2 separate regions of the Homo sapiens genome follow, and region 1 is linked to region 2. The links come from fine-mapping of genetic effects on gene expression. A gene starts in region 2. The other region holds a variant in brackets. All regions are shown on one strand. Distances are between the middles of the regions.

The links. PIP is the estimated chance that this variant, and not a neighbour inherited with it, causes the effect.
Region 1: its variant is fine-mapped to the expression of HACL2 in monocytes (CEDAR, PIP 0.95).

What each region holds. Positions count from the first base shown.
Region 1 is chr19:15,160,029-15,169,064 of GRCh38, forward strand. NOTCH3 (notch receptor 3) reads right to left here. Exons shown (of 33, transcript NM_000435.3): 29 at 7,221-7,383; 30 at 5,759-6,063; 31 at 5,340-5,487; 32 at 2,437-2,534; 33 at 1-1,686. The coding sequence ends at 634. Among named protein-coding and RNA genes, the nearest start is that of MIR6795, 15 kb to the right of the region's middle. The variant ATT/A (reference allele first, on the strand shown) is at 4,524.
Region 2 is chr19:15,121,627-15,130,662 of GRCh38, forward strand. HACL2 (2-hydroxyacyl-CoA lyase 2) reads right to left here and starts at 4,160. Exons shown (of 16, transcript NM_006844.5): 1 at 4,030-4,160; 2 at 3,299-3,443; 3 at 1,749-1,950; 4 at 1,490-1,617; 5 at 1,266-1,404; 6 at 1,067-1,178. The coding sequence starts at 3,433. ILVBL-AS1 (ILVBL antisense RNA 1) reads left to right here and starts at 2,534. Exons shown (of 3, transcript NR_186314.1): 1 at 2,534-2,599; 2 at 2,838-2,879; 3 at 4,301-4,548. RefSeq lists enhancers at 2,900-3,665, 3,666-4,429, 3,924-4,013 and silencers at 3,614-3,663, 4,234-4,303.

The sequences.
Region 1 (9,036 bases), 38 kb after region 2:
GGGAGGAGGCTCCCAACACTCCCCCGACCCCTGGCCCCAGTGGGTGCGCCCAAGGGTGCCTACTTGGTACATACCTGGGTCGTGTACTCGGTACACGGGATCCCAGTCATGCCTGTGTACTAGGTACACAGAATCCAGCTTGGCCGAATGGGCCCACAGACTCAGCCCCACGGGGGCACTGGGGGGTTCACAGGGGGAGGGAGCATCTCCATATATATATTTTGTAAAAAATAATAATAATAAGTTTGTTTAAATGAATTTGTTTCTATACAAAATGTAAAAAAAAAAAGAAAAATAAAAATAATAATAATTCATTCATGTCAGAGTGTAAGGAAATGAGAGGCCAGAAGGAGAGAGAAAGGAATGAGGGAAGAGAGAAGTGGGGAAGAAGGAGGTCCCAGACTCTTCACAAGACTGAGAGGGTGGGTGGTAGCCCCCACCCATTATAAATAAAGGAAGACTGAAGCCCTGGGCTGATGACCTATCTCGGTCACGCTGCAAGGCAAGGATGCAGGAGGGTTGGTGGAAAGAGAAGAGGATGAAAAAGACTAAAAGGAAGGAAGAGACAGAGAAAGAAAGGAGGCAGGACGGGGGTCTCTTTAGGCCCCCAAGATCTAAGAACTGACGAGCGTCTCAGGCCAACACTTGCCTCTTGGGGGTAACTTCCGGCTGGGGCCCCAGCTGGGTCTGGGCCTGAGCAAGGGAGCTGGGAACAGACAAGGGAAGTGGCTGGGCAGGCAGTGCCCCAGTGGTGGTGGCCATGGCCCCAGTGGCAGTGGCTGGGCTAGGCGTGGATTCGGACCAGTCTGAGAGGGAGGGAGGTGAGGGGCTGGCCCAGTGCTCAGGGGATTCGGGGGATGGGGTCAGGTAAGGGTGCTCACTGGGAACCCGCAGGAAGCGGGCCTTTGGGGGGCTGCTGTGTGCCCCAGCCGCCGGGTACTCCTCGCCATGTCCTGGGACTGCCAGGTAAGGCGGGGGCCGCTCCTGCGGGGAGACGGGGGTCCCTGGGTTGAGCAGCTGGGGTCCCGGCGCCAGTGGCAGCAGGAACGAGGGGCCTGGAGGGGCAGGTGGGGGCAGCCGGGCCCAATCGAGGGGCACAGCCACAGGGTTCAGCAGGCCCAGGCTGAGTACACATCCTCCAGGGGGCTGGCGCCCTAGACCCGCCCGGCCTGGGCCACCAAGCTGTGCCAGAGACACTGCAGTGGCAGTGGCAGCTGCATAGGGCCCCTCAAGGGGGAAGCCACCAGGGGAAGCAGGGGGCCCACCGAAAGGCCGCGGGGAGTCCAGCGAGTCCACGGGCGACAGCGTGACCGAGCTGTCAGCCAGGGGGCCCGGGCAGGCCAGCGTCAGCTTCTTGCCCCGCCCCCGGGGCCCCTGCGGCCCCAGCCCCGCCTTCCCGGGGGGCCTCCTGCTCTTCTTGGACCCCGACTGTGCCGCTTTGAGGCCAGGGAGGAAGGCCCCTGGAGGACAGAGCAGAGGCCCCAGGCCGTGGGGACCGGGGGGGCTGCGGGGCCCACTGGGTTGATCCAGCAAGCGCACGATGTCCTGGTGCAGTCTCTCCTGGGCTACGTCCCGCGGCAGCCTGTCCAGGTGGTCGGTGATCTCACGGTTGGCAAAGTGGTCCAACAGCAGCTTGGCAGCCTCATAGCTGCCCTCGCGGGCGGCCAGGAATAGGGGGGTCTCCTCCTGGGGGGCCAGAACCCACAGAGGTCAGCGAAACCCCAGCTAACAGTAGCAAAGTCTTCCAGCCTCTTGGGGGAGCCCGAGAGCTATGAGTTTGTACACTGGAGCTTGACAGACCTGGGTTAAATCCCGGCTGTGCTGGGGGAGCCTGGACAAGTTCTTTCCTCTAAACCACATTCATCCATCACCTACTAAGTGCCAGAGGTCAAGGCCAGGACTAGGGTGAGTTAAGCGAGGTACTCACCTTAGGCATAACTTTTTTTTTCTTGTCTTTTTTTTTTTTTTTTTTTGACAGAGTCTCACTGTGTCGCCCAGGCTGGAGTGCAGTGGCGCCATTTCAGTTCACTGCAACCTCAGCCTTCCGGGTTCAAGCGATTCTCCTGCCTCAGCCTCCCGAGCAGCTGGGACTACAGGTGTGCACCACTACGCCCAGCTAATTTTTGTATTTTTAATAGAGACAGGGTTTTACTACGTTGGCCAGGCTGGTCTCAAACTCCTGAACTCAAGTAATCCACCCATCTCGACCTCCCAAAGTGCTGGGATTATAGGCATGAACCACCACACCCAGCCATTAGGCACAAAATTTAAGGGGCCCCCAAAAACTTTAGTCACCAAAGTAAATTATATTTTAATCCAATGTTTGGGGTTTTATTTTGTTTTGTTTTTTGAGAGAGTCTCACTCTGTTGCCCAGGCTGGATTGCAATGGCACTGTGCCACTGCTGACACCCAGTGGACCAAGGGCTGGGGCTCACCTTGCTATCCTGCATGTCCTTATTGGCTCCATTTTTGAGCAGGGCCAAAGTGGCTTCCACGTTGTTCACAGCCGCAGCCCAGTGTAAGGCTGATTTCCCTGGAGGATGAAGGGGAGAGAGGTCAGGACCAGGCACCTGTCCTGGGGCCCCCATGTCAGGGAGGCAGAAATTGTCTAGAATGTGGCCTAGGGGTAGAGGAGGCAGGCCTGCCGTGAATATCCAAGTACTTGTGTCTGGATCCATGTGTGTGCAAATCTGCAAAATGACTCTGTGCAATGGGGAAGCACTTTGTGTCTGTGTGTGTGTGTTTGTGTGTGTGTGTGTGTGTGCGTGCATGTGCATGACTGTTTATACACAGGGGGTGCTGTGTGGACCTCCTTCAGTTGAACCTAGGGTTGTGACATCCAATACAGTAGTCAGTCACATGTGGTTTTTATTTATCCATTTATTTATTTTTGAGGTAGTGTCTTGTTCTGTCACCCAGGCTGGAGTCCATTGGCACAATCTCAGTTCACTGCAACCTCTACCTGCTGGGCTCAGGCGATTTTCCTGCCTCAGCCTCCCTAGTAGCTGGGACTACAGGCATGTACCACCATGCCCAGCTGATTTTTTGTATTTTTGATAGAGATAGAGTTCCACTATGTTGCCCAAACTGGTCTCAAACTCCTAAGCTCAAGTGATCCACCAGCCTTGGCCTCCCAAAGTGTTGGGATTACAGGCATGAGCCACCGTGCCCAACCTACATGTGGTTCTTTAGATTTAAATTTAATAAAATAGGTGCCAGGACCATTCAATGGGGAAAGAATGGTCTTCTCAACTAATGGTGCTGGAACAACTGAATATTCACATTCAAAGAATGAAGTTGGACCCCTACCTCACACTTTATACAAACACTAACTCAAAATGGATCAGAAACCTAAATATATGAGCTCCAACTATAGAACTAAACATCTAGAAGAAAACATAAGAGTAAATCTTCATGACCTTGAATTAGGCCAAGATTCTTAGATGTGACACCAAAACCACAAATAACAATAACAACTACAAAACAGATAAATTGGACATGATCAAAATTGAAACTTTTGGCCAGGCACAGTGGCTCACGCCTATAATCTCAACAATTTGGGAGGCCAAGGTGGGAGTATTGCTTAAGGCCAGGAGTTTGAGATCAGCCTGGGCAACAAAGTGAGACCCCATTTCCACAAAAAATTTAAGAATTACCCAGGTATGCTGGCACACACCTGTAATACCAGCTATTCAGGAGGGTGGGATGGGAGGATCACTTGAGCCTGGGAGTTTGAGGCTGCAGAGAGCCGTAATCATGCCACTGCACTCCAGCCTGAGTGACAGAGTGATACCCTATGTCTAAAAATAAAAGAAAAAAAAAGTGGTCCATCGACACAATGGATTATTATTCAGCTGAACTATGCTACAACATGGGTGAACCTTGAGAACATAATGCTAACTGAAAAAAAGGCAGACAAAAAAGACCACGTATCATATGATTACATTTATATGAAATGTCCAGAACAGGCAAATCCATGAAGACAAAAAGCAAATCAGTGGTTGCACAGGGCTGGACAGATGAGGGGCTTGGCAGATGATGGCCAAGTGGTGAGAATTTATTTTTCAGGTGATGAAATGTTCTAAAATTGATTGTGGTAATAGTTGTATGACTCTGATTATACTAAGAGCCATTGAATTGTACACTTTAAATGGGTGAATTGTATGGCATGTTAATTATATCTCAATAAAGCAGTTTTTTGTTTTTTGTTTTTTGTTTTTAAAAAAAAGGATGGACTCAGTGGCTCATGCCTATAACCCCAGCACTTTGGGAGGCCAAGGCAGGTGGATCACCTGAGGTCAGGAGTTTGAGGCCAGCCTGGCCAACATTGCGAAACCCCGTCTCTACTAAAAATACAAAAAAATAGCCAGGCATGGTGATGGGCACCTTTAGTCCCAGACACTTGGGAGGCTGAGACAGGAGAATCACTGGAACCTGGGTAGTGGAGGTTGCAGTGAGCCAAGATCACACCATTGCACTCCAGCCTGGGTGACAAGAGTGAGACTCTGTCTCAAAAAAAAAA[ATT/A]AAAAAAAGGGCAACATAAGGAGAAAAAAATTAAATGAACTAAAACATTTACTTCTTCATTTGCCTCAGTCACATTTCAAGTCACTATATGTGGCCAGTGGCTACTATACTGGACAGTGCAGAGAATAATTCCATCATCACAGAAAGTCCTATTGGCCAGCCCTGCCCTAGAACTGTGGCTCTCAACTAGGAGAAACTCCCTGCCCCCAGCCCCCAGAGCATTTGGCAACGTCTGGAGACTGTTTTTTTTTTTTGAGATGGAGTCTGTCCCCCAGGCTGGAGTGCAGGGGCACAATCACGGCTCACAGACTCAACCTCCTGGGCTCAAACGACCCTCCCACCTCAGTTTCTGGAGTAGCTAGGGCCACAGGTATGCACCACCGCACATGGCTAATCTTTCAAAAAACTTTTGTAGAACCCACTATGTTGCCCAGTCTGGTCTCAAACTCCTGGCCTCAAGTCATCCTCCTGCCTCAGCCTCCCAAAGTGTTGGGATCACAGGCATGAGCCACCACACATGGCCTGATGTGTACGTTTATTATAATAACTTCCAGCAGGTGGAAGTACAGTGTGTCCGTCTAACAAAGCAGGTGGAAATGAAGTATCTAGGGGAAAGGCACCTTTTTCTAAATCCCTGAGGCACCCTAAGGACTAGTGGTGACCCTGCATGACCCTGCAGGCTTCATGAAGCCTGGTTATGTGTGCGTGAGCTTCAGTGATTGGGTCTCAACATGGGTATGAATTTGCACCAACATGACCCTCAGGGCCCAGGTGACACCAACCCAGCTTAGACTTGATTCCTCTGCCAACCTACCAAGCTCATCCACAGCATTGACATCAGCATGGCTGGCGATGAGCTCTTCCACCATGCCCTCTACTGCCAGGCGGGCCGCCAGGATCAGTGCCGTTGAGCCATCTGCCATGCGGGCATCCAAGTCTGTAGAGCGGTTTCGGATGAGAATCTAGGACAGAGAGTGGATGCAGCAGGAGGGGTCATGGCAGGAACAGAGGAATCAGGAGCACCCCTAAGTCCCATGAAGTCCCCAACCCCCATACCCCAACCCCTGAAATTGGTGAGGTTCAGGGAGCAGCTGCTTGACAGATACTGTATTCCCATATATCCCCATTTTCCAAATGAGAAAAAATGAGTCTGAAAGGCAGAACTGGGGCTCAAACCCAGGTAAGTCTAATGCCTGCCCCAGCTCTGAGGTCCAAAGTGTGTGCCTATCTCACCTGGAAGACACCCTGGGCATCGGCTGTGACAGCTGTGTGCAGGGGAGTGCGGCCTGAGTGGTCCTGGGCATTGGTGTCTGCCCCAGCATCCAGCAGCCGCTTGGCTGCATCAGCACGGGCATAACGGGCAGCCAGGTGCAAAGCAGTCTCGCCAGTACGGTCAGTCCGTGCCCCAAGCTGAGCCCCCTGGCAGATCAGGTCGGAGATGATGCTAGCTGATGTGTCATCTGCCTCATCCTCTTCAGTTGGCATTGGCTCCAGAGCCCCCCCACAGAAGGAAGCCAGCATTAGCGGGGTGAAGCCATCTGCAGGGACAGGAGTGTGTCAGCAGGAAGGTAAACACAGGGCCTTTTCCAGGAAATGTTATCAAGGGTACCCCATTAGGAGCTAATGGGACACATGGAAAAATGACAATTAGCAGATCCTCCTGTCTGCACACCCACACCCAGAATGAGGATTCGTGGGCACGTGATTTGTCACAGAACTACTCCTAGGGCACAGGGAACACAGGACAAGGGACTCTGGGAGTCAAGCAAGTGTGCAACCTCCAGTAAATTCCCAAAGGGTTATTCCACCTTGATCCTCCAAAGGGACTCTGGAACATGTGTTGTACCCCAGAGTTCTAATCCAACTCAAGGCAAAGAAACCATCCCCTTCATACTCCTGCACCCACTGGTTAGGAGCTGCCCCTTTCTGCCAATTCATTTGAGTGTTTTAAAAGGGGGGGGGAAAAAAAGAGCTGCCCCCAGGGACATAAAATCCCAGGCACTTCAGGCCCCAGCAGCCAGAGGGACTTCAAAAGAGAGCCATAAGTACAGGCCATTTGGAGCATAAGCAAAATGAAGCTAAGGCAGGAATGCCCTGAAACATAACAAAGATGGATCTAAGAGGATCAAACAACATAGTCCGCTACACTGCACACACTGTACACAAGCACTTGTCCTCATTTTTCTTAGGGAGCCACTTGCATCCGGTTCTCCATTCTCAAGCCCTGGGTAGAGACTGACCTCCCCGCTCCACCAGCAGACCCGACCCCCACCAGCTCAAAGACAGGTATGTGAATCAGGCTTGGTCAATTTGCATATTCCAGCCCCCTGGTCATACTGATTGGCTCAAGGATGAGCACGTGACCCTAGTCTGTCCAATCAGAATGCATCCTGAGACTTTTCTGGAGCATTAAGAAGGTTTTGTAAGATTGGAGTCAAAGGGTAGAGAGGGGAAAACTGAGTCCTGGATCCAAATGTGCCACTTTTAGTTAAATGAGTTGATAAATCCCTTGTTTTACTTAAGCTAGTCTGAGTTGGACCTTTGTCACTTCCAACCAAGAGTGTTGCTGAATACACACACCCTTCACAGAAGCTTAGAGACTCCCCCAGTTCTCCCCAAAACACAGAGTCAGAAATAACCTCTCACAGGTAGGATGGGTGAGGGGCATCCCTTTGGGAGGGGCACTGTCACTAACCTGGGCCACGCACATTGACATCCATGCCATCAGCATCTGCGTCGCCCTGTGGTGGTGTCAGTGCCATGGCTGGTGCCACGCGGATGTCAGCAGCAACCAGATGGTGTTGAGTCCACTGACGGCAATCCACAGCCTCCTCAGCCCCCATGCCTGGCTCCTCTACCTGGAGGGGCAGGCACCCTGGATCTCAGATCTCACCCTTTGGTGCTGGGGAGAGCCACTGCCAGGGATGGGGCTGGGCATTCCTACAGGTTTCTCTTTAGGAGATACACACAGAGCCCTGGGAAATCATTTACCATCTGTTTGGTGTTTTATTTGTTTTTGAGACAGAGTCTCGCTCTGTCCCCCAGGCTGGAGTGCAGTGGCATGATCTCAGCTCACTGCAACCCCCGCCTCCCGGGTTCAAGTGATTCTCCTGCCTCAGCCTCTGGAGTAGCTGGGATTACAGGCACATGCCACGGTGTCCAGCTAATTTTTTGTATTTTTAGTAGAGAAGGGGTTTCACCATGTTGGCCAGGCTGGTCTCGAACTCCTGACCTCAGGTGATCAGCCCCTCTCAGCCTCCCAAAGTGCTGAGATTAACAGGAAATCAATGTGTGCCATAGCCCAAGGAGGTAATAAAAGGAAGACACAAGGTTTCTTTTTTTTTTTTTTTTTGGTCTTTTTGAGTAATAAATGGCTTTAATTATTTATGTATATATTTTTTAGAGACTGAGTCTCACTGTGTCACTCAGGCTGGAGTGCAGTGCTGCAATCATACCTCACTGCAGCCTCAACTTCCTGGGCTCAAATGATCCTCCCACCTCAGCGGCCCAAGTAGCTGGGACTATAAGCACACAGTATAAGCAGATTGGGATAGCATCTGATCCAGGTTCAAGTTCCAACCCCACCCCTTAGTAGCTGGAAGGCTCTGGGCAAATCACTTTGAAGCTCTGAGCTTCTCATTGGCAAAATCAGGATGACGCAGCCATTCCACCATGCTAAGATACCACCACAATTACATTGGGCCACCCCTTTAATACCTCTAATACCTACTTTGGGATGGGAAGGCAGAAGGAAAAGTCTGGGTTGAGCAGGTTTTTTTATCTGTCCACTGTAATAGATGATTCCATTTCACAACATTAAAATATGGACAGAGGAAGGGAGTTTGTAAATTGAAGTATATGTCAATAGCTACTTTACAGCGTCCTCAGAGAGATGAAATAAGATGTTTTATGTGCATTAGAGACATTCAGCGGGTGCCTCAGTAATGCTAGCAGGATCTGTATGGACTCAATTGTGCCCCCTCTAAAAATCATACAATGGCCGGGCACGGTGGCTCACGTCTGTAATCCCAGCACTTTGGGATGCCGAGGCGGGTGGATCACTTGAGGTCTGCAGCTTGAGACCAGCCTGGCCAACATGGTGAAACCCCATCTCTACTAAAAATACAAAAATTAGCCGGGCATGGTAGCACATGCCTATAATCCCAGCTACTCGGGAGGCTGAGGCAGGGGAATCACTTGAACCTGGGAGGTGGAGGCTGCAATGAGCCAAGATCACGCCACTGCACTCCAGCTTGGGCAACAGAGTGAGACCTGGTCTCAAAAAATAAATAAATAAATAAACAGAAATCATACACTAAAACCCTAAATAATATATAAAATTTCCATGTGCCTGCATTTGAAGATAGGACTTTATTTTTAGACAGGGTCTTGCTCTGTTACCCAGGCTGGAGTGAAGTGATGCAGTCATAGCTCACTGCAGGCTCCAACTCCTGGACTCAAGTGATCCTCCTGCCTCAGCCTCCCAAGTAGCTGAAATTACTGGTGCAAGC
Region 2 (9,036 bases):
GATGAAACCTCGTCTCTACTAAAAATACAAGTATTAGCCAGGTGTGGTGGCGGGCGCCTGTAGTCCCAGCTACTCAGAAGGCTGAGGCAGGAAAATCACTTGAACCCAGGGGGAGGCGGAGGTTGCAGTGAGCCGAGATCACGCCACTGCACTCAAGCCTAGGCAACAGAACGAAGAATCTGTTTCAAAAAAAAAAAAAAAGAAAGAAAAGGACAAAGATGTGAGGGAAGGAAAGGAGGAGGAAGGAGAGGGCTCGAGTCTGGGCTCTGCCACTTTTTTTTTTTTTTTTGAGACGGAGTCTTGCTCTGTCACCCAGGCTGGAGTGCAGTAGCACGATCTTGGCTCACTGCAAGCTCCACCTCCTGGGTTCACGCCATTCTCCTGCCGCAGCCTCCCAAGTAGCTGGGACTACAGGCGCCCGCCACCACGCCCGGCTAATTTTTTTTTTTTTTGTATTTTTAGTAGAGATGGGGTTTCACCATGTTAGCCAGGATGGTCTCGATCTCCTGACCTCGTGATCTGCCCACCTCGGCCTCCCAATGTGCTGGGATTACAAGTGAGAGCCACCGCACCCGGCCTGGGCTCTGCCACTTCTTAGCTGTGTGACTTTGGGCAAGTGACTTCACCTTTCTGAGCTTCCTCCTCTGTAAATGTAAGAATGAACCTCCCTTCCGAGGTTCAAGGATCATCCTTTAGGAGGAGGAAAACGGAGAGGACGATGGGAAAGGTGGTGGGGGAAAGGGAGGAGAAGAGGAAGGAAGAGGGAGGAGGAAGAGGAGGAAGAAGAGATGATGGAGGAGGAGAAGAAAGGGAAAAGGAGGAGGAGGAGGGCTGTCCTGAGCCTCTCCCCTTTGCTGCCTCCACGAGGGCCGCCTTGCTTTCCCTACCCACCCAGTTCATTCCTGCCTCAGGACCTTTGCACATGCTGTTCCTTCTACCTGGAATGCTCTCCCCCCAGCTGTCTCCTCCCAGTCCACATGTGAATCAAAGGAGGATGGGTGTGGGCTGGAAGCTGCAGGAGAGAACGGGGGATAAAGGAGGGAATGGCAGGGGTGGGGCTATTCACCAGGAGACCACTCGGCCCACGAGGCCCTTGGGTGGCTTGGCTGGCACCATCTCCTTCTGGACCATGAAGTAGGGGTACAGCACGTCAACGGGCAGCTCCACAAACACCGGACCTGCAGGGACAGGGAGGACGCTGAGTCCATAACATGTCCCCAGCCCCTCGGCCCCAGCACTGCTCAGCATCACCATCCTCCACCTACCTGGGGTGCCCGACTGGGCGGCAGCCATCGCGGCCCTCAGGGTGGGCACAATGTCCCGCACCCTCCGCACAGACACACAAAACTTACAGAGTGGCCGGAAAAGGGACAGCTGATCAACAGCCTGGAGCGCACCCCGGTTCTGGCAAAGACAGAGGTGTGGCAGGGTTATCGCATGAGCCCTTCAAGCCCCCCTAGGCCCCCACTGGCCCCCAAGGACTGGGTACCTGCAGCAGAGTGCTGGCAGCCCCACCCAGAAGCAGGATTGGGGACTGAGCCATCTGAGCATTCTTCACCGCAGTCACCGTGTTGGTGAGGCCAGGGCCTGCTGTCACTGCCGCCACGCCCACCGTCCCTGGAACACAGAGCCCATCACAGCCATGCCCACTCTCTTGGCCATTCTTCCACCTCTGAAAAACCCCTACCCTCACAGACACTCTAGCCCACAGTCCAACCAGTCCCCAGCCCTCTCTGCAATGCCCTCACCGGACAGGCGGGCCATAGCATCAGCAGCAAAGACGGCCGTGACCTCATGGCGTGTGTCCACCACACGGATGCCCAGTTTCTCACAGGCCACCAGCAGCGGGGAAATGTGCCCACCGACCAGCGTGAAGATGAACCGCACACCATGGGCCCTCAGCACAGCGGCCACGTTCTCTCCGCCATGCCGGACGCTTGCCTTGTCCACCTGGGCCCAAGGACAGGTGGAGCAATAAAGTTAAAGGCCAGGGCAGAGGGCAGCTGGGAAAGGGGGCAATCCCCCTGCCCCAGGTAAGGGGGCAGGAGCAGGGTGAGAGGTCAAGAGAAGCTTGGTCTTGGTTAGGCATATATTATACTACATGCCAGGCTCAAACCAAGGCATAACATCTTATCAGATCCTCTTGTCATTACATCCCTCTTACAGCTGAGGACATCAAGGCTTGCCCAAGTAAGACTGAAAGTTCAATAGAACCCACGCTCTTAAGTGCCCCACTGTTACACTGCCTGTCTCCAGGATGGCAGGGCAATCAGGGAGAGAGGAGAGGGTTATATAACCCAGGGGGTTTGGCCAGGGGCACAACGCACGCAGAGCAGATGGCAGGGAGCCATCTGCTGTGACTCCTCCCTGCCCTCCAGTATCCTTGCAGAGCCTGGCAGCTGGGCTCCTGATCCCAGCCTCCCTGATGCCCTCCTGATGGACGCTAAACAGGCCCAGGGCTTAGTTGACAGGCTGCCAGCCACCATGTGCCTGGCACGGGAGTGAGCTGCTGGCACAGACTGTGCCGAGGCCTCCCAACTCCAGCTGCCTCACAGCCCTACACATCCAAGGCTTGCTTTAAATCTCCTAAGTCCTGAAGGTCAGTGGCATCACTCCTGGCTAGCAGAGGAAGCAGTAGAGAAGGGTTTGGGGAGGGAGAGGTCAAGCTTGGTCCCTGCTAGGAGAGAAAGGGTTGAGGAAGGGGTCTGGAGAAGGGGTAAATTTCAAACAGAGGTGCAAGGAGTTTAGGGGGACACCTGTGGGGTCAGCTCTCTCCAAACATGTCACCTAGGGCAAACCACCACACAATCTCTCTGAGCCTCAGCTTCCTCTTGCAGAAAATGAAGACAGAAAGAACAGCACCTACTTTCAAGGAAAAGGTAAGGGGTAGGTAAGAAAGTCTACAGTACTGAGCTCAGCAGAGGGCAACTGTTATGAAACTGTCACTGCCACCCCCTCGCTGGAGCCTGCCCTCTGCCCCATTTATCCCATCCAGGTTAGGGAGCACAGAGTGCTGTCCATCTGTTCTGTGAAAAGAGTCACTGGGGAAGGAGGTAGGTGGGGTGCGAGTGCCCCGGCAGCGGCAGCTTCCGTGTTCTCTCTTACCAGTGGCAAAGTCCAGGCCTCCATACACAGCGTGGCAATGGAGACAGGGCCCTGGACAGAACCTCTTACCAGTCCCTCTGGACTAGTCGGGGCTCGCTTTCCCACCCTGCACAATGAGTGAGCTGGAAGCAGCACCACGAGGCCCCTCCCTCTTTGACTGCCCCCAGCCCACCTCCCATTCTGTGCCCCGCACCTTGTGCAGCAGCTGATAGAAGAGCCCCAGGCGGTGAGCGGCGCCCAGCAAGGCGGCCACCAGCGTCCCGCAGGCCAGGAGCAGGAAGGAGGGGAATAAGCTCCCAGCGGGGGCGGCGGCCGCGGGGGTCTCCATGAGGTGGTACCTAAGAGAGAAAGGGCACTTCCCAGACTTGGGCGCGACAGGGAACCTCTCCGGAAGAAATCGCGCCCCTTCTCGCAGCAGGATCCAGGGCCACGACCCTTGCCGCCAGTTTCTGTGCGGCCACGCCCCCAACCCTGCCAGACCACGCCCTTTGTGCGCCTAGGCTCGGGGTGAAGCCATGCCTCTCCGTGACAAGGTCACGCCCCTCGCGGGGCTAGCCCCAGTCCTTTACATCACCACCACTCCCACCCAAACTAGCCACCACAAGTCAAGGTGGCGACGACAGCACCACACAGTTATCTTCCACTTACCTACTTGTCAATGGACAGGCGGAAGCCCCGCCTCTCTTTCCACAACCGGACCCCAAATCTCAGCCCCAGTAGTGAGCCCGCCCCATGTTACGTCACCAAGAGGCACGAGGTCACGCCCCCGGGTTAGCGGGCGCGACCCTCCACGCAACCCACGCCTCTCCCTTAAAGAGCGCACGGGCCCGAGCCTGATCCCCGACCCCGGGCCAGGCTGGGTCGAGGTCACATCGCATCAGGATGTGGTTCTCCCACACCAGCTCGACCCCCGACGCTATTCACCTTCACCTCCAGGATATGGCGCTGCCTCCAGCAGAATTCGGCCCCCTCCGTGTCACGTGACCCGGGAGCGTGGCCGTGCCCGGGTGGCCCACTTGGCTCAGCGGCGCCCCGTAGTCCGGCCCGATGCGCATGCGCACAGTCGGAGCCCCGCTCCGGGGCCACCCGAAAGAGCCTTGCCTCTACTGGCCGCCTCCCTCATAGACCCCGCCTCCCCTTGCCTTTCATTGGCTCGCACTGCAGACCTCACACCCATTTTATGTTTTAAAACCAGGAGGCCACGCCCCTCAGCGGCTTCAGGAGCCCAGACCTTTGGGGGCCCACCTTCCGCAGCTTTCCATTGGCCCCACGGTGGAAGCCCGTAGGTTCAGGCCCTCCGAACACAGCTCGCTTTCCACACCAGCGGGGCCGTACCAGAGCAAGACCATGTCTCACAAAATAATAATAATACTTAAAAAATGGTAAATTTTATGTTATGTATATTTTCCACACTATAAATAAATATTTGTGCATGTATATATATATATGTGTATATTTTTTGTATAATAGGTATAGTAGTAAGCAAAGGAAATTCACACTGAGTCACATTCTACAAAATGCCTAACCAGACCTCTACAAAACTGTCAAGGTCATGAAAAACAAAGACTGAGGCACTGCCACAGACTAGAGGAGGGAAAGGAGCTGTGACAACTAAATTCAATATAGTACCCTGGACTGGATCCAGGAATCAAAAAAAGGACAAATTTGTGGATAAAGTTGGTGAAATCCAAATAAAGTTTGGAGTTGAGTTAGTAGTAATGAACCAGTGTTAATCTTTTTGTTTCAGTAAATGTATTATGGTTATATAAGATGTTAGCATTCAGGGAAGCTGGATAAAGAGTAGACAAAAATTATCTTGCTATCTTTGCAGCTTTTCTGTAAAGCTAAAAAAGAAAAAAAAAGTCTTAATAACAAGGATACAATTTTCCAGAGAGAGAGAAAGATGTTGTAATAGATGTAAATTCTTTCTTGGGAGACAAAGCTTTAACATGCTCCAAGACTAATTATCTGACCAATCTCTCCCCAGATAAAGAAAGATTGTCACTAGGCAAATGTCCAAAAAGCTTCTCAGCCGAAAGCTGGATTATTCAACAGTCCCTGAAACAAATATACACAGAGGACAAGTGATTTTTTTAAAAAGGGAAACAAGCCTGGCATGGTGGTCCATGTGTGTAATCCCAGCACTTTGGGAGGCCAAGACAGGAGGATCGCTTGAGGCCAGGAATTTGAGACCAACCGGGGCCAAAAAGTGAGACCCAGTCTCTCCAAAAAACAAACAAACAAACAAACTTAGCCAGGAGAATCGCTTGAACCCGGGAGGTGGAGGTTGCGGTGAGCTGAGATCACGCCATTGCACTCCAGCCTGGGAAACAGAGCAAGACTCTGTCTAAAAAAAATTTTTTTTAAAAGAAAAAAAATTAGCTGAGTATGGTGGCACGTGCTTGTTATCCCTTTTGCTTGGGAGGTTGAGAAGGGAGGATTGCTTGAACCCAAGAGGTTGTGTCTACAGTGAGCTGTGATCGTGCCACTGCACTCCAGCTGGGGCAACAGAGCAAGACCCTGTCTCTAAAAAAAAGGGGGTGGGTGTGGGGCAGGGGAGGAAACAAATACCATGTATCTAAATTGATCGAAATTTAAAGAGAAGTGCAACAAATTATTGAGTTAGAGGGATACAGTAAGGGCCTCTCTTAGGACAAGCAGAAGGACTCTCTAAGGAGGTGACAGTTGAGCAGAGAGACCAGGAGGAAGTGAGGACATGGGCCCCACAAGGATCTGGAGAAAGAGTAATCCAGGTAGAGAAGATGGCACATGCAAAGGCCCTGAGGTGTTTTATTAATTTCCTTTGATGGCCATAACACATTACCACAAATTGGGTGGCTTGAAACAACAGGAATTAATTCTCTTACACTTCGGGAGGCCAGAAATTCAGCATGGAGGCATCAGTGGGGCCATACACTCTCTCGAGATCTTTGGGGAGGATCCTTACCTTCTCCAACTTCAAGAGGCTCCAGGCATTCTTTGGCTTATGGCTGCGTCACTCCAATTTCTCCGTATATCTTCAGATGGCCTTATTCCCTGTGCCTGCATCTCCTTCTGTATCTTTTTTTTTTTTTTTTTTGAGACGGAGTCTCACTCTTTCGCCCAGGCTGGAGTGCAGTGGCGCAATCTCGGCTCGCTGTAACCTCCACCTCCTAGGTTCAGGCAATTCTCCTGCCTCAGCCTCCTGAGTAGCTGGGATTACAGGCACACACCACAACACCCGGCTAAATTTTTTTGTATTTTTAGTAGAGATGGGGTTTCACCATATTCACCAGAGTGGTCTCGAACTCCTGACCTCAGGCAATCCGCCTGCCTCAGCCTCCCAAAGTGCTGGGATTACAGGCATGAGCCATCGGGCCCGGCCCTCCTCCTCTACGTCTTACAAGGATACTTGTCATTGCATTTAGGGACCACCCTCATCCAGGATAGGCTCATCTTGAGACCCCTCACTTAACTACTTCTGCAAAAACACATTTTCCAAGTTAGGTCACATTTGCACGTTCTGAATGTACATTTTAGGGTCTGTCATTCAACTCATTACAAATGGGATGGGCTTTGCATGTGCAGAGAAAGTCAGGAAAGCCAGGATAGCTAGAAGGAAGAGAGCAGAGGAGGCAGGGAGGAGACGCTATCAAAGGCTGGACAAAGGCCAGACAGGTATGATTTTACAGACTGCATGAGGACTGCAAATTTTATTCTAAGTGAATTGGAAAGCCAGAGAGGATTTTGAACAATATGCAACCACACACAATCTGCACATGATTATTCATAGGTGCTTTAGTTGCAATAGCTGAAAACTGGAAAAAATAACAAAAAACAACAAAAAAAATATCCCTTAAGAGAGGAATGGTTAAACAAACTGTGATTCACCCATACCATGAAACACTGCTCAGCAATAAAGAGGGCAAACTACTAAAACACGACAGGCCAGGTGCAGTGGCTCACGCTTGTAATCCCAGCACTTTGGGAGGCTGAGGCGGGTGGATCACCTGAGGTCAGGTGTTCAAGACCAGCCAGACCAACATGGTGAAACCCCGCTCTACTAAAAATATAAAAAACTAGCTGGGCATGGTGGTGGGTGCCTGTAATCCCAGCTACTCAGGAGGCTGAGGCAGGAGAATCACTTGAACCCGGGAGGCAGAGGTTGCAGTGAGCTGAGATCGTGGCATTGTACTCCAGCCTGGGTAATAAAGCGAGACTCCATCTAAAAAAAAAATATATATATATATGTATGTAGTCAGGCATGGTGGCATGCAGCTGTAGTCCCAGATACTGGAGGCTGAAGCAGGAAGATCTCTTGAGCCCAGGAGTTTGAGGCTGCAGTGAGCCATGATTGTGCAACTGCACTCCAGTCTGGGAGACAGAGCAAGACCCTCTGTCTTGCTAAAAACATAAAATACAACAAAACAGAAAAGCAAAGAAGCACGCAACACTTTGGATGAATCTCAAAATAAGTAGCCTGATTGAAAGAAGCCAATCTTGGCCGGGCGTGGGGCTCATGCCTGTAATCCCAGCACTTTGGAAGGCGGAGGCGGGTGGATGACCTGAGGTCAGGAGTTCGAGACCACCCTGACCAACATGGTGAAACCCCGTCTCTACAAAAAACATAAAAAATTAGCCAGGTGTCGTGGTGGGCGCCTATAATCCCAGCTACTCAGGAGGCTGGGGCAGGAGGATCACTTGAACCCAGGAGACAGAGTTTGCAGTGAGCCAAGATTGTGCCATTGCACTCCAGCCTGAGCAACAAGAGCAAAACTCCGTCTCAAAACAAAAAGAAAGAAGCCAATTTCAAAGGTACCATTAATATGATCCATTTATATGATATTCTCCAAAAGTGACAAAACCATACTATGGGAGGAAAGATCAGTGTTGCCAGGGGTTAGGGAAGGGTGTTAGAATAAAGGGGGTAGCATAGAAGGTTTTGGGGGTGATAGAACTGTTTTGTATTATGGTGGCTGCATGTGTTAAAATTCTAATTATGATAGTGGTTACCTATGTTAAAATTTTTATTGAACTGAACTCTAAAAATTTCAATTTTACTGCATGATCCTTTAAAAACTAAAATTACGTACATATAATTTTATACATATATGTGTAAATAAATAGATAATTATATGCACACACACACCGTCCATAAATAAATAGAATTGTTTAAAGACACACTGGCACCAAACCAAAGTGATCCCTTGAAGTAACCAGAAGATTTGAAAGAGAACTGGAAAAGGGACTCAATTTCTGCCTGTGCAATTCAAAGGTGTCTTTGATGTTACTCGCAGGAAACGCTGCTGTTAAGTGTTTCAAGTCTGGGGAAGCAATGCGCTTACCACACCCTCATATCCTTGTCAATGCTTATTTTTATGAGTTTCGAAGTAAGTATAGAGTCTGGAAATGTCACAGAGGGAAGCGATCATCAATGTCAAGTCCTCTCTTTGATGACTTGTGAGACACAGAGCGGGGTGATCTCTGCAAGTCTCAGCAAGTGGTTCAGTACTAAACTGGTTCCCAGATTTCCTGACTCTTCCCGGTGGGCATGAAATCCCTGTGTTTCTAAACGCTCCTACAGCCTTCGAGAAGGCTCCTAAGGCACTTAGAGCTCCTTCTAAACTGATGCAGGCCCCTAATCCTGGCTTTCATCTCCTTGAGCCAAGGACAGCATCACGTAGGCTTCCAACCGTCGTCATGAGGTGTGAGTCATACCGGCCTCCACACCTGTAGGAGGTAATGCCTAACAGGGAGTGATGGAACCGGTATTTCCATCCACTCAAGCAAATAAATGAAAACCAACAAGCTCTCACCACTGGGGAAAATTAACCATCCACAGAAACCACGAAAACATTACTAAAGGAGTTGTCAGTAATTTATAAATGAACAGATTCCCAAAATTTAAAAAGAAAAATGGAGTCATCCTACACAACTTTCAATGTGCTTAAC